Regions from separate parts of the Homo sapiens genome. Here region 2 is linked to region 1. The links come from fine-mapping of genetic effects on gene expression. A gene starts in region 1. The other region holds a variant in brackets. All regions are shown on one strand. Distances are between the middles of the regions.

The links.
Region 2: its variant is fine-mapped to the expression of CACNG8 in whole blood (INTERVAL, PIP above 0.99).

What each region holds. Positions count from the first base shown.
Region 1 is chr19:53,955,414-53,967,044 of GRCh38, forward strand. It overlaps CACNG8 (calcium voltage-gated channel auxiliary subunit gamma 8), which reads left to right and starts at 7,524. Exons shown (of 4, transcript NM_031895.6): 1 at 7,524-8,012. The coding sequence starts at 7,730. RefSeq lists enhancers at 1,909-2,443, 4,654-5,554, 6,365-6,885.
Region 2 is chr19:53,984,418-53,996,048 of GRCh38, forward strand. CACNG8 (calcium voltage-gated channel auxiliary subunit gamma 8) reads left to right here. Exons shown (of 4, transcript NM_031895.6): 4 at 1-5,798. It overlaps CACNG6 (calcium voltage-gated channel auxiliary subunit gamma 6), which reads left to right and starts at 7,220. Exons shown (of 4, transcript NM_145814.2): 1 at 7,220-8,791. The coding sequence starts at 8,461. The variant A/G (reference allele first, on the strand shown) is at 4,775.

The DNA of each region.
Region 1 (11,631 bases):
ATGGGAAAATCTATACCGACAGAAAGTACATTAGTGATTGCCTAGGGCTGGAGTGGGTGCTTAGATTGGGGGTGATGGCTAAGGAGTACACAGTATCTCCTTGGACTAATGAAAATATTCTAAAAGTGATCTGAAGTTGATGATTGCACAGCTCTGTACAATTAAAAGCCGTTGAATTGTACACTTTAAGTGGGTGAATTGCATGATATGTGAATTCGATCTCAATAAAGCTGTGAAAAAAAGAGATATACTCTTTAGTTGTTGAAATAAATCATGATGTAATCATGCATCACTTAGTGTCACAAAATTACCAATAGAAGAACTAACACTTGAGGAAGAAGGGAAGGAAAAGTGAGGGCTGCATGAATTGATTTGTTATCTATTAGAGAAAAAATATCTATAAATAATGTATAATTTTGATTCCAAAAGAAAATCATTATTTAGGGATGTCAAGGCAAGTAAGAGAAGAAATAGCTAAGAATATTAATAGACGGCCGGGTGTGGTGGCTCATGCCTGTAATCCCAGCACTTTGGGAGGCCGAGGCAGGCAGATCAAGAGGTCAGGAGATCAACACCATCCTGGCCAACATGGTGAAACCCCATCTCTACTAAAAATGTAAAAATTAGCTGGGCATGTTGCTGCATGTCTGTAATCCCAGCTACTCGGGAGGCTGAGGCACAAGAATGGCCTGAACTCGGCAGGCAGAAGTTGCAGTGAGCCGAGATTGCGCCATTGCACTCCAGCCTGGCGACAGAGTGAGACTCCGTCTCAAGTAACAAGAACAAAAGCAAAAACAAGAATGTTAATAGACTTTTCCAATAAGGAAAAGGACTTGAGGTGGAACAGGCTAAATTATTTTTATTGTAGTCCCTTGTGTACCATTTGATTTTTTTTCTTTTCTTTTTTTAAACCATGAGCCTATATTGATTGGACTAGGAAATATATTTTCATTTAAAATAAAATAAAGAGGTTTCCCCCAGTTGCTAGTTCGTATAATTTAATAGTTCTCAACAGGGGCGATTTTGTTCCCCAAGGGACATTGAGCAATGTTTGGAGACATTTTTGGTTGTCCCCAAATGCTATTTTTAGGGTGCTATTTGGAGGTGCTATTGGCATCTAGTGGATAGAGGCGAGGAGTACTGCTCAGCATTCTACAATGCACAGGACAGCCTCCACCACACAAAATTATCCAGCCCAAATGTTGAGAACGTTGAGATTGGGAAACCCTGGCTTTAAAAAATTATCTTCATAGTCGTTCTCACCAGTGCAGTTGTATCAGCACAGGCTCTGGAATTTGATGTCCTGATGAATGTCCTCCAATACAACTGACCTCTCAACCTCAGTTTTCACATCTTTAAAGTGGAGGCTGCTAACAGAACCCACTTCTTTTGAAGATGGAACCAATACCCTCAGGCTCCTTGGAGTCTGTAATATTAAATGCCCAGTTTGTTTTTATTTTTATTTTTTTCGAGACGGAGTTTCACTCTTGTTGTCCAGGCTGGAGTGCAACGGTTCGATCTCAGCTCACTGCAGCCTCCACCTCCCTGGTTCCAGTGACTCTCCTGCCTCAGCCTCCCAAGTAGCTGGGATTACAAGCATGCACCACCATGCCCGGCTAATTTTGTATTTTTAGTAGAGACGGGGTTTCACCATGTTGGTCAGGCTGGTCTCAAACTCCTGACCTCAGGTGATCCGCCCGCCTCGGCCTCCCAAATTGCTAGGGTTACAGGCATGAGACACTGCACCCAGCCTAAATGTCCAGTTTATATTGGTTATCATCATTGTTTGCTGATGTATCTCCCCCCGCATCCCCCAGCAAAAGAGCAGAAAATAATCAACTTTCCTCAAACGAATGAATTCCAGACCCCTTCCCTTGGGGGCTGTGTTTCTTAGCTTCTAAACCAGGAGTGTTGGAATGCATGTCTAAACTTTCTCCCATGGGGCGGGGTGAGAATTAAGTGAAACGACCTAAAGAAATTTCAGTAGAAATGTGAGATGCTGGGGACTGAAAGATATCGCCCCTCCAAAGGAAGGAACCAGCAGGAGCAAACACTAGGTAAATAGATTTAGGGAACACAGGTTATTCCTGTTTCTGCCAGCCCCCAGGAGGGAGCAGTAAAGGTGTGCTGGGTTAAATGACTATGAATTTCACCTATTGTTGGCCGCCCTCCACCCCCATAACCCCTATTGTCTCAGAGCCTCAGGTTACTCATGGTTAATGTAGGAACATTGGTGCCCACACGGCAAAGATTCTGTAGGACTTCTGTAAGACAGCGAAGCATGCCAACAGCCTTCAATCAGCCATGGCTACTAGTTCTTAGTTTCTGATAACATTTTTACGAGGATCGGGTCTTGAGTAAACGGCTTGCCTAGAGCCACGTGCAATCCCACTTCCCATCCGCGTTCTCACTTGGTTGGAGGCAGCTTCTGTGCCCTTTATAACCAAGAGCAACTGAGTATAGAGGAGAAGAAGTGTTTTGTCCAAGGTCACACGAAGCCTTGGGAGCATCCGTGAAATTTGGACCCAAGACCGAACTTTCAGACTCTGATCTCAGACTTTCCACCTCCGATTGTTCCACTTCCCCAACCTACTAGCTAGTTCTAGAACGGACAGATCCATGCTTCTCAAAACTGTTGCATAGACCCCTACCCAGTCCCAGACAAGTTTCTTTAAGACATATTTGCACCCAAGCTTTTGGCATTCTACTCTCCTTCCCAGCCCCAGCCCCATCTCGGGGGCATCTAACTCTACCCCTTCTTCCCCATCAGGTTTGAACTAGGGGAGGGGAGGGGGATGAGAAGAGAAAAGAAAAAATTGTTGGTGAAAGTCAAAAGGCTTGTTAACGTGGTAAGTTCAATATTGTTTTATCTGGGGTGGTGGGGGGGGAATCTTTGCCCTCGCCACTTGGAGGAGGAGCGGTGGGAAGACCCCGGGAAGTTGCGCTTTCCCTTGGATTTTGGGAAAGGGGAGCATTCCTGGGGTCCTTTTGAAAAGGCCCTCCCCTCATTTCCGGCCGCCGCTGCCAGCCTTGGCTGGGCGCCTGGATCCTGTTGCTATGACGACAGGAAGAGGCGGTGGCGGCGGCAAGCGATGCTGAAGAGAGATGGAGGCTAGTGGGGGTGGGGGTGGTGGCATTGGAATGGGGGAGGGGGCAGGGATCCGGGGCTGGGGACGCGGGAGGGGGCGGGGGCAGGGGTATCCTTCATCTCTGACCTCCTCGGGGCTTCTCAGCCTCACCCCTCTCCCGTTATTTTTTCTGGGCTTCCTTCGGGTGCATCCCCAGTCTCTGTGTCTGCCTCTGTTTCTCTGGATCTCTCTCTCTTCCTGTCTCAGTCCCTCTCCGTCTGTCTCTCTCTGGGTCTCCCTCTTTTCCTGCACTTGCCTTTCTTTCCCCAGGTACCTTCTGCCATCCAGGCCCTTCTACCCTCCATTTCTTTCATTTACTATCTTGCTCCCCCGCTCCCTCTCCGCATCTTCTTCTCTCTTTAAAGCTTCCTTCTCTCTAGCAAGACCTTGCCCCCATCCCCAATTTCTCTCCCTACCCGCTCTCCATTTCATTCCCTCTCCCCCCTCTCTCCCCCATCCTCTCAGTCTCTCTCTTTCTGTCTGTCTCTCCCCATCTGTCCCTCCTCCCTCCTCTCTGGATGACTCTCTCCCTCTCTCTTCTTTCCTTCTGTTTCCCAGATCCTGACCCCCCCCACACACACACTTACCCCAGCCCTCCCCCACCCCCTCCCCCCCAGCCCCTGCGTTTCTCTCTTTGAGTCTCTGTCCCTGTCCCCTTCTCTCTCTGGATATTTCTCTGTGTGTATCTCTCCAACTTCCTTCTGCTTCCAGCCGCTGCCTCCCCCAAATTTCTCCCTCCCCCATTTCTGTTTCGCGGTCTCTGGGTCTCTCTCTTTCCGTTTCTCCTCGTCTCTCTCTGTCTCTCTCCCTCCCTCTCTGGATCTCTCTCTTCTCCTCCGGCTTCCTTCTGCCACTCGACCCTGCCCCCCTCTTTCCCTTCCCCCATCCATCTCCTCTCCGAGGCTCCCCATCCCTCAGCAGCTCCCCTCCCCCTCCCTCCCTACTCCCTCCCTCTCGTCCTCCAGCTCCGCACTTTACCCAGCGACACGAGAACCAAATTGTCTCCTCACCTTTTTTTTTTAATATATATATCCCGACCCTCACTCCCTTGGGGCCCAGGCTCAGAGCTGCCCCCCAGCCCCAGCCTGACCTCAGCACCCCCATTCCCCATACGCCTCCTCATCTCCACTCCCCGAACCAGGTCGGACGCCTGGGTCCCTCACTGCTGGGGGAGGGGGAAGCAGCGAGAATTGGGAGCCAAAAGGTTTTTCTGGGGGGGGTGCCAACAGGGGGGGCTCGACGTCCCCTCCTCCGTGCATCGGAGAGTTGACCTATCATTAACAGAGGTGAGACAGATCTTTTTATTAATCGGAGGTGGGTGGAGGTAGAATTAATGTTCTGTGATCCCCCCCCCCGAATTCTGGAGAAAAGAGCTGGTCCCCTTCCTAAGGAGAAAGGAGAGTGACCCCCTCATATCCGGAAGCTTTAGAATTGGGGGTCCCCAGCTCTCTTCTCCCTGGCAGCTGCTGAACGATGGACTAAGAGTCCCTAAAACCAGATTGTGCCCCAAATTGACAAAATGAAAAGATCTTCGAATCTTTTTTTTTTTTTTTGGACGGAAGGAGAATTTCCCTCCTTTCCCTCCTCTTCCCTTCCCCTCTTATCCCAGGTTGTTAGGGGCCTGGGGTCACAGGCTTACCCCACTGAGAGCAGATATCTGTTAAGACAGGGTAGGTGGCCCTGCTGGTGGTGAGGGGCACCAATTCGGGGAGAAGAGGCCAAGAGATCAAGAAGAGAGGAAACTCAGCATGCGGACAGAAAAGAGAGGAAGGGGCCGGCGCCCAGGCCGGGAGGCTGGGGGTTGCCCTGTCCAGCGGGCTGCTGAACTGTGGCCTGAGGAAGGGCTGTGTGTGGGCAGACGGGAGTTGAGGTGGGGGAGGGAACACAACGTGTGGGGCACTAGGCCCAGTTGCCATGGAGACACCCCCCATAGACAACCTTTTTCCACAGCCCCTCCTCGGAGCAGCCCCAGTCTGAGGCCAGCTGATGGGGGGCAGTGGAGACGGGCAAGCAATCAGGAGGCCAAGGTCACCCTGTACTGGGACCTAGGTTCTGGTTTTTGTTTTGTTTTTTTTTAATCCCCTCTTCGTCTAAGGTTTCCAGGCTCTTAACTATAGTGGGTTTGGGGGAAGAAGTTGAAGAAGCAGTGTGGAAGCAAGTAAGGAGTACATCCCCCAGAGGACAGTTGGGGTGGGGGAGACAGGCAGGGCTGGGGGCATGGTGGTCGGGGGAGAATGTGGAAGAGAGAAATGAAGGAGCCACGGGGCAGCGGGTGCAGGCTGGGAAAGTATTCCTAATTGAAAAGAGAGTTGTAGTCTTGCGGATCACATTTTTCAGAGGGACACAGTCTACTGGGGGGGCTCTTTCTGCATGTGGAAGAAGATGAGGGGCTACAGTGTGTGTTCCTGTACAGGTGAAGTCGTAGAGGGGAGTACTGGGGGGCGTTCCCAAGAAGGGAAGCCTGTGGGGGCCTGCGGAGGGGATTTTCCGGGGCAGAGGAGAACCTGGGAGCTATAGCGGTGGAGCAAGAGGAAGTGAGTCAAGGGAATTCTATATGATGAGAGAGAAGTTGGGGAGGATGCTTCCTGGTACATTGAAGAGAGAGTGGGCTTCAAAGTGAGTTAGGGGGATCTCAAGTTGGGGGAAACAGTGTGCTGAAGATCCCGTGTGATGATGAAGGGCTACGAGGAGGGGATTTGGAGGCAGTGGGAGCTGCTGTGAGTGCAGAGGGGCGGGTGGGTGGTACAGTGTGCCCCCTGCTATGGGAGTACAGGGCAGAGATTGGAATGGTCCTGAGTGGAGAGACATTTGGGGTCTGGAGGAAGCCATTCTTGCGAGTAGAAAATGCCGTGGAACTCACGGAGGAAATTTTTCTTAATGGAGGAGAAAACGATGGTTATGATATGAGTTCGTTTAAGTTGTGGGGGGGGGGGTGGCGGGGTGGGAAGATTCAGAAAACTCTTCTAAAGCAAAAGAGAGGGTGGGGGTTTTCCTGGAGTAAAGGCATAGTATGGGGTGGGGAGTGAGTGGCTTGTGGGGAGACAGTGGGGGCTGTGACAGGGAATGGGCTGGAGATGGCGGGGGGGGGGCAGCTTGCAAACCAGTGGGTCTGATGTTGGGTGCATTAGAATTCCCCAGGGAGCTTTTAAAAACTTACATGCGCAGGCCACACTGCAGACCAACCATGTCGGACTTTCTCAGGTGGGACTCAAACATCCGAATTTTTAAGGTCCTCGGGTGATTTCCAGGTGTGTTGGAGGCTGCCCGAGGCAGGAAGGGGGCTTCCAGGGAGAGGAGGCTGACTGAGGGTGGCTGGTGATTCCGAGTTGCACAAACTGTGAGGGTCAGCTGGGATTTTCTTTTTCTTTTTCTTCTTCTTTTAATTTTTCCTTTTTAGTTGAAGAGAGGTTGAGAGATTTATTTTTTCCTAAGGAGAGGAAACTGTGGGGGACCATTTGGAGTGATGGAATGACAAAAGCCAGACCGGAGGGGGCTCGCGGAGGTTACTCCCACGGAAGTGGTGCTACTCGGGCTTCTTAAGTTGTGGAGACGCTCAGGGAAAAGTTGGGCTGACAGGGAAGGGTTCTAGCGGGTGGAGAGGTGGGGCTTGCAGGGGAAGAGTGGGGAGAGCTGGTGGGCGCCGCATGGTGATGGGGCGGGGGTCGCTAAGGAAGGAAGAACGCGACGGGGGCTCCTGGGGAGGAGGCGGCGGCGTGGGGCTTGGCATCATGGCGGGGGGTGGCTTCCCATGCGATGAGGATCGTGGAGCCCCCTGGGGCGGAGGCGGCGCGGGCTAGGGGCGAGGGCTGTGAGTGTGAGCGGTGGTGGGGACTCCTCCGAGTGGGGTTAGTGGGATGGTGGGACGACTTTCTTGGGCAGAAGACAGGAGTGGAGAGAGATTTCATCTTATTTATTAATTATTAGCGGTGGTGGGGACTCCTCCGAGTGGGGTTAGTGGGATGGTGGGACGACTTTCTTGGGCAGAAGACAGGAGTGGAGAGAGATTTCATCTTATTTATTAATTATTAGCGGTGGTGGGGACTCCTCCGAGTGGGGTTAGTGGGATGGTGGGACGACTTTCTTGGGCAGAAGACAGGAGTGGAGAGAGATTTCATCTTATTTATTAATTATTAGCGGTGGTGGGGACTCCTCCGAGTGGGGTTAGTGGGATGGTGGGATGACTTTCTTGGGCAGAAGACAAGAGTGGAGAGAGATTTCATCTTATTTATTAATTATTATTATTATTATTATTATTATTATTATTTTTGAGAAAGAGAAGCAGTGGAGCCCCGAGTGGAAGGAGTTTCTGGAGCTGAGGCAGGGATTTTGGGGGGGGGGGGGCGGGGACTGGGGGAGGTACCTGTGCCTTCTTCTCCTCTAATGCGAGATCTCGCTCCTTGCCCTCCACCAGCCGCCGACCATGGCCGCGCTCTGACCCCCTCCCCGGCCGCAGCCTCCTCCTCGCCGCCCCCCTCCCCAGCCCCGCCGGCCCCGGGCCCCCCGCTTCTGCCTGCGCTGTGAACCCCCCCCCAGCCGCCGGCACGGCCCCGCCCCCGCTGCCCCGGTGGTGGCCCACGGCCCCCCGGCTGCCCGTGGTCAAACTGGAGTCGCTGAAGCGCTGGAACGAAGAGCGGGGCCTCTGGTGCGAGAAGGGGGTGCAGGTGCTGCTGACGACGGTGGGCGCCTTCGCCGCCTTCGGCCTCATGACCATCGCCATCAGCACTGACTACTGGCTCTACACGCGCGCCCTCATCTGCAACACCACCAACCTCACGGCCGGCGGCGACGACGGGACCCCCCACCGCGGGGGCGGCGGCGCCTCGGAGAAGAAGGACCCCGGCGGCCTCACGCACTCGGGCCTCTGGAGGATCTGCTGCCTGGAAGGTAGGGTGCGGGCGGCCCTCCCCGCAGCCCCCGCCGCTCCCCTCCGAGAGACCCTGAGCCTCCCGGGGCTGCCTGTCCCTGATCCTGGGGCCCCCTTGGGCACCCCTCCTCCTCTGCCAGAGGGGCTTCTGCGCCTTCCCACTCGCGCCCCTGACCTCCTCTCCCCTCCTTCCCACTCCTCCCTGCGTCCTGGCACCCTGCGGAATTCCTCGGCATGCTCCCTCTGCAGCCCCTCTGCCTCTCCGCTGAACCCCCTTATCCTATCTTTCCCTAGTCCGTGTCTCCTGCGCTGCCCCATCACACCCCTGCATCTTCCCTCTCTCCAGTACCTGGGGCTCCTCCTGTTTCATTTCTTCCACTCTGCCCTGTGCCTTTTCTCTTTTTTTTTTTTTTTTTGACAAGGTCTCACTCTGTCGCCCAGGCTGGAGTACGGTGGCACAATCACAGCTCACTGCAGCCTCGAATCCCTAGGCTCAAGCCATCCTCCCACCTCTGCCTCCTGAGTAGCTGGGACCACAGGCATGAGCCACTGTGCCCAGCTAATTTTTTTTATTATTTGTAGAGATGAGGTCTCCTGTTGCCCAGGCTGGTCTCGAGCTCCTGAGCTCAAGAGATCCTCCTGCCTTGGCCTCCAAAGTGCTGGGATGAAGGGCATGAGCCACTGCACCCAGCAGCCTCTTTCTCCCTCTTTCCCGTCAGTTCATCTTGACCCTGCTCCTCCGCTCCACCTGCCCCTTCATTTCCTCTCCCTCGTGCCCCGTGACATCTTCTCTCTCCCGACATTTCCCCCCCAGTCCTCTGAAGTCCCCTGCCTCTCCCGCCCCCTTTCACGGCCCAGTCTTCCGGTCTGTCTCTTTCCCCTTCTCTTTGGCTGCTGCTCCCCTGAAACTTCGTGCCTTAACTCGCCCTCACTCATGACTTTCTCTCTTTTCTGCCTTGTGCTTCTCCTCCTGTTCATCTTTCTCTTCCCATCAGTGCCCCCACCCATGTCTCTCCCACCAGGGTGCCCTCCAACCTCCCATCCTGGTCCTTTCCTCCTTTTTCCTTTAGTGGACTCCACTTCCTCTTCCTCCACTCATGCCTCCTTCGACGTCTTCCTGACTCGATGCCTCAGGCCTTCACGTTAAGGCTTCTCGCTCCTGCCCCTGCTACCTCCTCGGATCTTCGACTTGGTTCTTTTCCTCTGTCCTGTTCTCCCTCTCACAGCTTCTCTCCTAGCTCGGCTCCCTGGCTCTCGACTTCCCCACTTCTCCAAGACTCCTGCCCTCTGCTGTGCCAACCCCTTCTCTCTCCCACTCTTAGCATCAGTATTTCTTTCCTGAGTATCAAGTAGCTGCGGGGCTGGGAAGCAGGAGTCTTGGGTGCCAGTTCTGCTGCATATCTGCCCTGCTGTGTGACCACTGTCTTCCCTCCTGCACCCCAGCCTCACAGCCCTTGTCTGCAACGTGAAGGAGTGGAACCAGCCATCCTGATGCCCCCTTCGGCCAAAAGATTGAAATCTCTTGCTTCTCTTTTTCATCCCCCTCTATTTCCTCTGCCCCTTCTTCCTCTGTTTTGCTGAGTGTTCACGACAAGCCGGGAACGTTATCTCGTTTAATCCTATGAGGTGGGCACCACCTCGCTGTTGGGGATGGGTAAACTGAGGCTCAGAGAAGTGAAGTCACTTGCCCAAGGTCACCTAGCTGAGAAAGGGGCCGAGCCAAGAGCAGAACTCGAATCTCATGGATGGGATTCACAGATGCGCTCTGTCTAGTGTACAAAGTGTTTAAAACTGAAAGCAAAATCTGAATCCATTGCCAACAGTTAAAAATAGGGAGGCTTCCCATTGTAGTTCTGATTTCCGGCTTCTTCTGAGCTGGCGGAAGATCTAGCACAAGCCTGTGTTCTACCCTGACCACGATGGGCCGGATCTGAGCAGCAGCTGGGGGGTCTCCACTTCCCCACAGTCACCTCCATCTGCTCCGTCTCGCCTCCCATTCCTCCCACGGCTCTCGTGATGTTCTTTGCCTCTCCTGTGGAAGTTTGAGTTCATGTCCATTCACTGGTCTGACCAAGTACCAGGCATAGAGCCAAGTGTGAGGGCTCCCATCATGGGAGCCCTAGGACAGCACGTGGCATCTAGTAGGGATGTCATTCATTCATTCATTCGTTCATTCAACGTCCCATTTTTATTGAGTTTATATTATGTGCCAGGCATTGTTCTGGATTCTGGGGCTGCAGCAGTGGAAAACAAACAGACAAAACCTCCTGTCGTTATATATCTTATATTCTAAGGGAGAGACAGATAATGATGGAGGTAAAGTCAACCTTTAGGGTGTTAGATAGAACTGAGTGCTAAGGAGGACAAGGAGTTGGGGGAGGGGATGGGAGGGGTCAGGGATCCCCGTGGGAAGTAGATAAGGAATCTAGGAAAAGCTTCCCCGAGCAGGTGACATTTGATCACAGGTCTGAAGGAAGTAAGAGATGGAGGAAAGTGCTTCAGACTGTAGGAATAGCAGGCGCAGAGGCCCTGAGGTGGGAGTGTGGCTGTGTGTTGATCAAGCCAGTGTGAGGTCAGCGTGGCCGGGGCAGAGTGGGTGGCGGAGAACGTAGGAGTAAGAGGTGCAGTCGTAGGGGTATCAGGGTCCCCATCCCACAGGTTCTGTTTTTTAAAAATTATTTATTTATTTATTTATTTATTGAAACAGAGTCTTGCTTTGTCACCCAAGCTGTAGTGCAGTGGCGTGATCTTGGCTTACTGCAACTTCGGCCTCCTGGGTTCAAGCGATTCTCATACCTCAGCCTCCCGAGTAGCTGGAATCACAGGTGTGTGCCACCATGCCCGGCTAATTTTTGTATTTTTAGTAGAGACAGGGTTTTACCATGTTGGCCAGGCTGGTCTCGAACTTCTGACCTCAAGTGATTGGCCCGCCTAGGCCTCCCAAAGTGCTGGGATTACAGATGTGAGCCACCATGCCTGGCCAGCTTCTGTGTTTGTTTTTGTTTTGTTTTTCTTTTTTTGTTTTTAGGCAGGGTTTTGCTCTGTCACCCAGGCTGGCGTGCAGTGGTAAGACCATAGCTCACTGCAGCCTTGAACCCCTGAACCCAAGCCGTCCTCTTGCCTCAGCCTCCCAAATAGCTAGAACTACAGGCACATGCCCCCATTTTTTGTAGACACAGGGTCTCACTATATTGCCCAGGCTGGTCTCAAACTCCTGGGCTCAAGCAATCCTCCGGCCTCAGCCTCCCGATGTGTTGGGATTACAGATGTCAGCCACTGCACCCGGCCTCACGGCTTCTTATACATCCCAGAAAGCACTTTGCTTTAGATTCGGAGATGGGAGCCGTTGAAGGTTCTTGAGCAGAGGAGTCACACGAGCTGACTTACATTTTTGCGGTATGTTTCTTGCTGCTGTGTTAACAAATGACCGAGGGGAAGGCAAATGAGACAACGAGAGGCTCATCTAGGGTGGGGGCAGCAGGGTTTGGGAAGTTGTTTGAATTTTGAGTATATTCTGGAGCTACCGTGGGCAGGAGTTGCTGATGGAGCAGTTGTAGGATATGAGAGAGAAGAGCCAGGGGCGTCTCCAAAGCAGGGTTTTTCCACCGCAGCATGGTTGATATTTTGGGGTGGATAATT
Region 2 (11,631 bases), 29 kb after region 1:
TGGGGTAGGCTTCCTGGAGAATATGATGCCCATTCTGGGTCTTGAAGAAATGAGTGGGCATCTTCTGGTTGATGAAAGGCATGAGAAAGGCTTGTGGGGCCAAAGAACAACTTGGGTGAAAACGGGAGGAAGTGAACGAGCATGATGTATTGGGGTCAGTGCTAACAGTTCTGGGATGCTGATGTACAAGGTGGGGCTGGGAGATGAGGCCGGGAAAGTAGCCACAAGCTAGAGTGTAAAGGTACCAGGGTGGCCGGGCGCGGTGGCTCATGCCTGTAATCCCAGCGCTTTGGGAGGCTGAGGCTGGAGTATCACTTGAGCCCAGGAGTTTGAGACCAGCCTGGATAACATGGCGAAACCCTGTCTCTACAAAACATTAAAAAAAATTAGCCGGGCGTGGTGGAGCACACCTGTGGACACAGCTACTCAGGAGGCTGAGGGAGGAGGACCATTTGACTCCAAGAGTTCGAGGCTGCAGTGAGCTAGGATCGCGGCACTACACTCCAGCCTGAGCAACAGACTGAGATCCTGTCTCAGAAAAAAAGAGAAAAAGGTGCCTGAGTTCCAGGCAGAGGGACTGAGGCTCTTCTAAGGATGGTGAGAGAGGATGACAGCTGCGCGGGGGCAAGGGCTGTGCGGTGATTGGAGGGGATGGGTTTGAAGTTCACTGAGAAGGCAGAGGGGACAGCGCCCAGTAGGCTTCCCTTCCATATTTGCTCAGCAAGTGTTTCCTGAGGCCTCCCCCGAAGCCTTGTGCTGGGCGGTGCTGGGAGTGGAGAGGTGATTTTGATCTTGCCCTGCTCTCAAGGGGCTCCCAGTCTGGCGGGAAAACAGGCACAGACGCAGCTTGAGGAGGACGTGGCAGCGGTGGTGCCATGCTGCCAGGGGCTCTGCGTGCCCTTCTCTTGACGGAAGGGTACAGATCAGAGCTGGGTGTTCAGAATTTCTCTCCGAGGCCTGTGTGGAAGGACCAGGAAGAGAGAGACTGAAGGTCCCTAGGAAGAATTCTGCCAAGGCGGTTTCAGGAAGAGATGCTGGGAAATGTAGGAAAAGGAATACAAATCAGTGAGACGGAGAAGCGCTGAGTGAGAGAGACGGATACGTGGAGAGAAGAGGGATGCCGGAGCGGGTGTTAAAAGAGACAAATCTGGCCGGGTGCTGTGGCTCCTAATCCCAGCACTTTGGGAGACTGAGGCAGGCAGATTGAGCTCAGGAGTTCCAGACCAGCCAACATATTGAAATCTTGTCTCTACCAAAAATACAAAAATTAGCCGGGTGTGGTGGTGCACGCCTGTAGTCCCGGCTACTCAGGAGGCTGAGGTGAAAGGATCTCGCTTGGGCCTGGGAGGGTGAGGCTGCAGTGACCCGTGATGGCACCACTGCGCTCCAGCCTGGGCGAAAGAGCGAGACTCTGTCTCAAAAAAAAAAAAAAAATTGAGAGACAGCAAATATTTGCTGGAAGAGGGAGAGGGAACTGGTTAGGGGAGAATGGATTCTAGAGTCTGAAGGCCAAACAGAACGAGAGAGAGAGAGAGAGAGAGAGAAAGAATGAGGTTGAGGGTAGGCAGGAGGAAGAGCAAGATGGGGAGGGAGGGGGAGAGCAGGAGAGACCAAACTAGTAGAGTCACAGACAGAGAAAAAGTCAAAGACAGGAAGGTGATACAGAGGAGAGAGAAGAGGAAGAGGAGAGACTGACAGGTGCACAAATCAGAGAAGTCCCAGAGATAGCAGAAACACACACAGAGACAGAGATAGAGAGGGAGAGGTAAGCCGGAGACAGACTCAGAGATTCGCACAAAAAGCAACGTGGAGACTCAGAAGCAAGCGCAGCGTCAAGGAATGCTCCATTTCTGGTGTGTTGTTTTCCCAGTATTCAAGAAATATTTATTGAGTGCCAACCTGTTCTAGACCCAATCTCGGCCAGGGGATGTGGTGGCAAATAGACGGACAAGGGCCTGCTCTCCTGAAACACACTGGAGAGATAAACAATAAATAATATCATTTCAGTAACCAAAAAGTGCTTTAAAAATTAAGCTGAAGGCCGGGCGCAGTGGCTCATGCCTGTAATCCCAGCACTTTGGGAGGCCGAGGCTGGTGGATCACTTGAGGTCAGGAGTTCGAGACCAGCCTGGTCAACATGGTGAAACTTCATCTCTACCAATAAATAAATAAAGTAGCTGGGTGTGCTGGTGTGCCTGTAGTCCCAGCTACTTGGGAGGCTGAGAAAGAAGGATCACTTGAACCCAGGAGGCAGAGGTTGCAGTGAGCTGAGATCGCGCCACTGCACTCCAGCCTGGGCGACAGTGAGTGGTAACAGAATGACAGAGCAAGGATGACTTTAGATGAGGTCCTTGGAGTAGACCTTGTGGCAGAGGTCACAGAGATGTGGATTGTGAGTAGGAAAGAGAGGTGAGAAAGTCTGGGGGCCAGGCATTCCACCCACCAGAGGCAGCCCCAAAGCCCAGAAAAGTAGCAGGTCTTCGAGGAGGCCTGTGCGGTGAGCAGATCCACCATAGGACAGAGGCACAGGGTAGGGGCTGATCAGTTAGGGCCTTGGATCCTTGGGAAGAAATCTGAATTTTATTCTAGATCTGATGGGAAGTGCTTGGAGGGTTTTGAGCACAGGCATGCCATGATCATATTTTTATTTTCTTATTTATATTTATTTTGAAAAAGAGTCTTGCTCTGTCTCAGGCTGGAGTCCAGTGGGCTGATCTCGGCTCACTGCCAACCTCCGCCTCCCAAGTTCAAGTGATTCTCCTGCCTCAGCCTCCTGAGTAGCTGGGATTACAGGCATGTGCCACCACGCCTGGCTAATTTTTTTGTATTTTTAGTAAAGACGGGATTTCACCGTGTTGGCCAGGCCAATCTGAAATTCCTGGCTTCAAATGATCCACCTGCCTCGGCCTCCCAAAATGCTGGGATTACAGGAGTGAGCCACTGCGCCCGGCCTCATATTTTTATTTAAACAAGAACAGCAGAATTACATTGCTGTGCTGAGCATACGTAGACTTCAGGAGTCAAAGGGGAAGGAAGGAGGTAGCGGGCTGTTGCCTTCCTCTGGTTGCTGGAGGCCTGGACCAAGGTGGAGTTAGTGGGATGGAGGAAGTGGAAGAAGGCATGGGATTTTGGAGGCTAGAGCCTGCATTGGTGGTGAACTGGATGTCATAGAGGAGGGAAGGAAAAGGAACCAGGAAGAGAAGAACTCTCTGAATTGGGCACGCACATCTCTGATGGGCACCGATGAGGATTGTTACCAGGAACGAGGAGACTGGGATCAGGAAAGTGGCTTTGGGAGGGAGGAACCAAGGCTTCTCTTTTGGATGTGTCAAGATAGATCTGCCTTCGAGAAATCCGAGTTGTGGTATCAAATAGCCAGTTGGATATGTGAGACTGGAGTTTGGGGGAAAGAGAGGCCGTGGCTCAAAAACGTAAGTTTTGGAAACGTCAACATAAAGCCACAGGATTGGGTGACGTGGCCTAGCAGGGGGGTGGGGACAGAGAAGCGACCCTGGCCAGAGCCTTGGGGACATCTACATCTGGGGGAGAAGGGGATGTAGCAAAACGAGCTTAGGAGTGATCTCGAGGTAGGCTGAAACCAGGAGGGTTACAGAGGGCAAATGCACCTTTGTGTTTCAAGAAGGAGAGGAGACAGCCAGCTGTGCCAAGGGCTGCTGAGACTTGGACAAGGATGCAGAGAGCAGAGTGACCATTAGGTCTGATGACATGGACAGGGTTGGTGATCTTGATAAGATAAGATGTCAGTTCAGTGCAGTGGTGGGGACAGAAGCCCTGCTGGAGTGGAGGGGAGAGAGAATTTGGGGGGAAGACAGAAGGAAAGGGAATTCAGGCAAGTGTGTGTGTGTGTGTGTGTGTGTGTGTGTGTGTAACTGACACAAAGGCCAGGTGCGATGGCTCACGTGTGTAATCCCAGCACTTTGGGAGGCCGAAGTGGGTGGATCACTTGAGGTCAGGAGTTCGAGACCAGCCTGGCCAATATGGTGAAACCCCGTCTCTACTAAAAATACAGAAATTAGACAGGTGCGGTGGTGCACACCTGTAATCCCAGCTACTTGAGAGGCTGAAGCAGGAGAATCTCTTGGGCCCAGGAGGCAGAGGTTGCAGTGAGCCAAGATCACACCACTGCACTCTAGCCTGGGTGACAGAGCAAGACTCTGTCTCAAAAAAGAAAAAAGGTAAAAAAAAAAAAAAATGACCCTGAAAGGAAGTAGGGAGACATGCAGATAGGGAGATGGGAGGCAGAAAATTGCATCCTGCAATTAGCTGTCACAGCAGGCAGGAGCAAGAGAGATGGGGAAGCCCAGGGCCAGGAGGGGAAGATGAATTCAGGGGGCAGGGAAGAGAGGATGCTGTCAGCTAGGCTCTGGCAGATCCCCTAGCCAGGGATGCTCTGCCCAGCTCCTGTCTCTTGCTGCTGTCAGCGCCGGGCACACTCTGGGATTCCCCCTGTAGACCCTGTCAAGACCTATTGAGGTGAAGGGGAAGAACACGTTTTCATCATTCATTTTCAGAAATAAACATTCACTCAGTTCTTGGAAATACTTTCTGGCCAGGCTTGGGGGCTCATGCCTGTAATCCCAGCACTCTGGGAGGCCAAGACAGGAGGATTGCTTGAGGCTTGGCGTTTGAGACCAGCCTGGGCAATATAGTAAGACCCCGTCTCTACAAAAATGAAAAATGAGCTGTGGCGTGGTGGCTCACGCCTGTAGTCCTAGATACTCGGGAGGCTGAGGCGGGAGGATTGCTTGAGTCC[A/G]GGAGTTTAAGGTTGCAGTGAGCTATGATTGCACCATTGCACTTCAGGCTGGGCCACAGAGCAAGACCCTGTCTCAGAAAACAGAAAGAAAGAAAGTCAAAGAAATAAAGTCAAAGACAAGAAGGTGATACAGAGAAGACAGAAAAGGAGGAGGAGAGAGACTGACAGGTACACAAATCAGAGAAGTCCCAGAGATAACAAAAACACAACCACAGAGATAGGGAGACGTAAGCCGGAGAAAGACCCAGAGATTCGCATAGAAAGCAACGTGGAGACTCAGAAGCAAGCACAGCATCAAGGAATGATCAATAAAAAGAAAAAAAAATATTTCCTGAGGACTTCCAAGTACAAGGCCCTGCAATCTCAGGCCACTTCTGTCCCATCTCTGCCTTCAGAGGGGGGGACAGGTAGTCCAGACAATTAGAATACAGAGGGGGCTGTGTTCTGACGGGGCCACGCGGGCATTGAGGAAACGCAGCAGGCCCCTCCCCTAGCTGGGGCGGGGATGTCTGTGTGCCATCATCTCACTCCATCTGGTCATTCCTTTGCCCATTCATCCATCCATTCATTCAAGTCACCCCATGCACATTTTCCAAGACTGCCTGTGACCTGGCCCTGTGCCGGGTAGAGCTGAGGATGCCAAGGTGAATTCCTCCTGTGCCTGGCCCCGGCCCCAGTCTGCTGGAAGAACCAGACACAGACAATCACACTGCGGGGAAACACGTGCTCCATCGGAAAAGTCCAGAGCAGGGGGTGGGCAGAGAGGCCCAGCGTGCACCAGAGCCTCGCTCAGGTCAGCGCCAGGCCTGCCTGGAGCAGCCAACTGTGGGAGAAGAAGGAGTTGGTGAAAGGTGGGTCCCACCTGGGCCGTCCACAGAAGGGCTGAGGGGTAGGGGGTGAGGGGTTGAAGATCAGGCCCTGCCGCCATGCCACACGGCTGTCCTCTGTCCCTGCTCCTGGGGGAGCTGAAACTGCATGGAAGGTCCCCCAGGGGTGCCCCGTCTAATAAACTCGATGAAGAGGAGTGCTGCTTTCATTCTGTGCCCCTGACAGCCGGCCCTGCCCTGAGGCCTGCGCTTTCTCCAACATGGAAATCAGGCCTTCCATCCTTCAAGACCCAGGGTTCTGGCCCCAGTCTCCTCCCTGAGGCCCAGGACTCTGGGTCTGCCAACGCCTTGACCAGGAGTCCAGGCTCCCCGGCCCTCCTCCTCCCTCAGACCCAGGAGTCCAGGCCCAGCCCCTCCTCCCTCAGATCCAGGAGTCCAGGCCCCCTGCCCCCTCCTCCCTCAGACCCAGGAGTCCAGGCCCAGGCCTTCCTCCCTCAGACCCAGGAGCCCAGGCCCCCAGCCCCTCCTCCCTCAGACCCAGGAGCCCAGGCCCCCAGCCCCTCCTCCCTCAGACCCAGGAGCCCAGGCCCCCAGCCCCTCCTCCCTCAGACCCAGGAGTCCAGGCCCCCAGCCCCTCCTCCTTCAGACCCAGGAGTTCAGGCCCCAGTCCCTCCTCCCTCAGACCCAGAAGTCCAGGCCCCCAGCCCCTCCTCCCTCAGACTCAGGAGCCCAGGCCCCCAGCCCCTCCTCCCTCAGACCCAGGAGTCCAGGCCCCAGCCCCTCCTCCCTCAGACCCAGGAGTCCAGACCCCCAGCCCCTCCTCCCTCAGACCCAGGAGCCCAGGCCCCCAACCCCTCCTCCCTCAGACCCAGGAGTCCAGGCCCCCAGCCCCTCCTCCCTCAGACCCAGGAGTCCAGGCCCCCAGCCCCTCCTCCTTCAGACCCAGGAGTTCAGGCCCCAGTCCCTCCTCCCTCAGACCCAGAAGTCCAGGCCCCAGTCCCTCCTCCCTCAGACTCAGGAGCCCAGGCCCAGCCCCTCCTCCCTCAGACCCAGGAGTCCAGACCCCAGCCCCTCCTCCCTCAGACCCAGGAGTTCAGGCCCCCAGCCCCTCCTCCCTCAGACTCAGGAGCCCAGGACCTAGGAGACCAGGTTCCTCTCCTCTCAGATCCAAGATTCTGGGTACCCAGGCCTTCTTCCTCTACCACTCAGAAGTGGGGTACCGAGGCTTCTTCTCCCTTAGGGACCCAAGACTCCTGGCCTCAGGCCCTCCTCCCTGAGACCCGGGGCCCTGCCTCCCGCCCCTCCTCCCTGGTAACCCCAGTCAGACTTGCTGCCCCGCCCGTCTCCTGCTGCCCGGGAGACTGCGGAGCTGGGACTCTCGGCGCCGCTCTTGCCCCTTAGTGAAATGAAAGTCCCATCAGGCTCGGCCCCTTCCTCCCCGGGCGGCCTCCCTCCCCCCTTCCTCGTCCCCTTAAAACACCCGGGATCCCTATGGCAACAGGCGCCGGGCGACAGGTGCGGGTGTTATTTACGGGTCAAGCCCGAAATAGCCCCGAGGGTGGAGGGTGGAGGGTGGGGGGTGGGCGGGTGGGGACGAGGCCGGGCGCGGGCGGAGGCCAGGCCGGTGGCGGTGGCGGGCACAGCCGGACGCTTCGGAGGCAGCGCGGAGCTGGGGTCGGCGCGGGGCCGAGGCAGGAGAGCGAGAGGGGCCCCTGCTCGGGAGTCGGGGGTGGGAGCCCCGAGGGGGGGCCCTGGCCTGGGGCTGAGCCTGGCGCGAACCCGACCGGGAAGGCCCTGGGAGCCCGGGGGAGGGAGACGGACTGATCCCGAAGGGGCGCAGCGTCTCTTGCGGGTCGCGGTTGGCCTTTGAACCCTGGGGGGACTCAGTCCTGGTTTTCCGAGCCGCAGTGCGGACCACAGCCCCATAGTGTGAGCCCCAGGAGGGCCCCCGGTCCCATCTGCCCCAGCCCTCGGGGAGGCCCCGTAGCCTCCCGCCTCTGGACTCCACTCTGTCTTCCGGCCACCGGCCCCTTTTCCAGGCTCAGTAGAGACCTCGGATCTTTTCTGAATGGCAGGGGAGACCCCTATCCCCTTTTCCTGAATTCCAGCGAGGCCCAGTCCTCTTCTGAGCCCCAGCCAGGGCTCTGTTCTTCTCCTTCTGTGGATGCCGGGGTCCTACTGCCTCTCTTGAGACCCGGATTGAATTCCGACCTCCCCTTGGGAGCTTCCCGGGACCCCAGGTCTTCCTTTTCCGAATCCCAGAGGGTCCCCAAGTCCTCTGTTCTCAAACTCTGAGCCCAAGGGAACCCCGGCCACATCTCCTCCAAACACACACAGGACCTCAGGTCCCTTCCTGGGTACCCCAAACTCTTAGCCCTAGTGGGGTGCTCAGATCTCTCAGGAAAACCAGTTTCCCTTTTGTTAACCCCCCAGCGGGGACCCCAAAGCAGCCCCTTGGAGCTGCAGGGAGCTTCAGCGGGCACCAGTTCTCATTCCTCTGGAGCTCTTGGGGGGACTCCCTCCTGGGAAGCCGAATTCTATCTCTAAACCTCAGGGTGGGGGCCTTGTTTTTCCTCTGGGCCCCGTCTTCTTTGCCAAGTTCTTGAGGGCAACCTAGACCCTCCTCTGAACCCCAGAGGCTTCCCCAGCCCTGGGGATCATTTTTCTCTTCTGAACCCCAGAAGCAATCTCGACTTTCGCATTTGAGATTCCAGACAGGACTCGGCTCTCCCTCTTTCATACCCAGGGGAAACTGAGTCCCTCACCCCCTTCAAGACCCCAGGCCGCTCCTCGCTCCCGCCCCTCGAGGCCCTTCGCCGGCTCTGCCTCCTCCCCCTTCCCGACCCCACCGGCCATAAGATGATGTGGTCCAACTTCTTCCTGCAAGAGGAGAACCGGCGGCGGGGGGCCGCGGGCCGGCGGCGGGCGCACGGGCAGGGCAGGTCGGGGCTGACGCCCGAGCGCGAGGGGAAGGTGAAGCTGGCGCTGCTGCTGGCCGCCGTGGGCGCCACGCTGGCGGTGCTGTCCGTGGGCACCGAGTTCTGGGTGGAGCTCAACACCTACAAGGCCAACGGCAGCGCCGTGTGCGAAGCGGCCCACCTGGGGCTGTGGAAGGCGTGCACCAAGCGGCTGTGGCAGGCGGACGTGCCCGTGGACAGGGACACCTGCGGCCCCGCGGAGCTGCCCGGAGGTGAGCAGCCGCCGCCCCGAGCGCAGGGCTTGCGTCCCACGGACAGGGAGGGAGAGGGGCCCGTGTCCGAGGAGAAAACCCGCCCCAGGGACAAAAGCCTGAGCCCGGAGGAGACAGCTTGCCTCGCAGTAAGCGCCAGTGCCCACTTCGTCCTCTGCTCTCAGAAACTGCTGAGAGATAGAGGGATCCCCCAGATATGGCCCAGGTCCCTCACGGGCCTACCGCCAGAGAACCTGTGCCTTAGAGCTTGCTTTCCTGCTACAGACTGTACCCCAAGACCAGAATGTGCCTACAGGGAGTCTGTGCCCCCAGGCCATCCTGTACCCCCAGACCAGGCTGTGACCTGAGACCCCCTCAGACGAGTCTGTACCCCTATTCTGCACCTCTAAAGAGAGCTTGTGCCCCCGCCTACAGCCTGTGCCCCAAGACCATCCTGTACCCCGACTATCCTGTACCCCCAGATGAGCCTGTGTCCCCAGCTACAGTTTCCACCCCCAGACTAACATGCACCCCTAGACCAGTCTATACCCCCAGACCAGCCTGCATCCTTACACCAGCCTGTGCCCTCAGATCAGCCTGCACCTCCACACCAGGCTATGGTCCCAGATGATTCTATGACCCCCAAAGTCCCTGCCCCCACACAGCCAATGTTCCCAGGCATCGCTGTGTCCCCCCAGACCAGCCTACAGCTCTAGAGAGAGCCTGTGTCACTAGAAAAATCTTGCCTGTGTCCCCAGACCCAGCCTGTGATTCCAGACACAGCTGGTGTCCTCAGATAGCCTGTGCCCACCCCAGACAGCCTGCACCCTCTGGAAGTGCCTGTGCCCTGGAGACAGCCCGTGCCCACTCTGCATGTGCCCACAGACAGCCTGTGCCCATGGAGAGACAGCCTGGGTTCCTGGTGTCAGCTTCCTCTTCCCAGCCTGGAGACAGCTTGCGCTCCCATCCTGTGAGCCCTGGGGAGACAGACGCCCACCCCAAAGCAGGATCTATGCCTGTTCCCCACCTACTGCTTCCACCAAACCAAGCTCTCACCAGACGCCTCCCAACACCCGAGGGCAGACCTTGTTCCTTCCCTGCAATGTTCTTCACTTCCTGTCCTCTCGCCTCCAAATGCCCAGACTGGACATTTCAGCGTTTCTCATTTTCTCCGAGAGACATTCCCATACTCCCTCCTTTCCCAAATCATGGCTGTTTTATCCCTGGGCATGGCAGAGAGCTGTTCCATACCTCCCTGACACGCCACGCCACGGCTTGTGCTTATACCAGGGGGACATTCTATACCCCTTGGGAACTGGATGAAATCTCCTTCTACCTCCACTGACCCATGGAAAATACCTGGCACTCCTCAGAGCCCATTTGGGCTGTCATATATTTGATCACCCATATGAGATCTCCAGCACTCTTCAGTCTCCAAAGACGGTCCTATCATCCCAGTGCCCCTCAAAGAATATGGCCTATTTTTCTGGGCTCCGTATGAGATTTCCCTCGTCCCTCACTTCTCCAGATGTGATATCTTATATGTGTAGAGTGCAAAATAGGATGTCCCAAGCCCTCGATAGGACAGTGGGATGCCAGGCCCCCCGGCTGTCTGAGCTACCCACTTGGTGTCCAGATGGGCTACCCTTGATCATTTTATTTCTGCAGATGGGCTGTCTCTGGCCCCTCAGGGGTCTCATAAAGGATGATCTCAAACTTTTGCAAAATGGGAGTCCCCAGTAATAAGAATAGTAGCTGCTTATGTAATGCCTGGTTCTCATCTCAGTGTTTTATGTACATTAACTCATCAAGCATCATAGCTAGCCTATGAGTCGTTATTATCACTCCCGTTCTAGAGAAGAGAAAAATGAGGGGGCGAGAAATCTCGGTGGCTCGGTCTATGCACCCAGGCTAGTTAGATGGAATTTGAAGCTTGGTTGCCTCTCTTCTCAACAACTGCATTATATCACATCTCACTGGTCCATCAAGAGATCCCAAAGGTCAAAGGTCCTGGGACAATGGAGGGGTGGCCCATCCCATCTCACCGCATTGTATGGGGTTCCTTGCATCCCTTGCTGTCCCCTCCATTGATCAGAAAGGACTTCAGTCTTCCAGCAGGGCCATTAACGTTATCTTACAAACCCAACCCCTCAGAGGACATCTCTCAATCTTCATTATCTCAGAGAAATATCTCACACTCACCACTGCCCATCAAAAGGCATCCCTGGCTCCCTTGGCTATAAGTATGGAATGTGGGGGTGACCCTTACCCTGCACTTTTCCAGATGGGATGTGTCATGTTTGGGGGTGGTCGAATTGGGATGTGCTAAACTATTAGTAGCCAAAAGAGGATGCCAGGCAACCTACATTGTCCCAGAAGGGCCGTCACACTTCCCTTGTGGATGTAGACCGTGTTTCCCGCAATGACTGCTTCAAAGAGCACCTGCACCCTTCGCTCAGTGACGTGAAGCACCCTTTACCTCTTTTTCTTTGAAATGGAGTTTTGCTCTTGTTGCCCCGGCTGGAGTGCAATGGCACGATCTCGGCCCACTGCAACCTCTGCCTCCAAGGTTCAAGCAATTCTCCTGCCTCTGTCTCCCAAGTAGCTGGGATTACAGGCATGCACCACAACATCCGGCTAATTTTTGTATTTTTAGTAGAGACGGGGTTTCACCATGTTGACGAGGCTGGTCTCAAACTCCTGACCTCAGGTGATCTGCCCGCCTCGGCCTCCCAAAGTGCTGGGATGACAGGCATGAGCCACCACGCGCAGCCCAGCATCCTCTACCTCTTGCTGCTGCATAAGAACTCACATATCCCACTCCTCCTGGCCGGACATCTCACCCCTTCACCTCCCCTCGG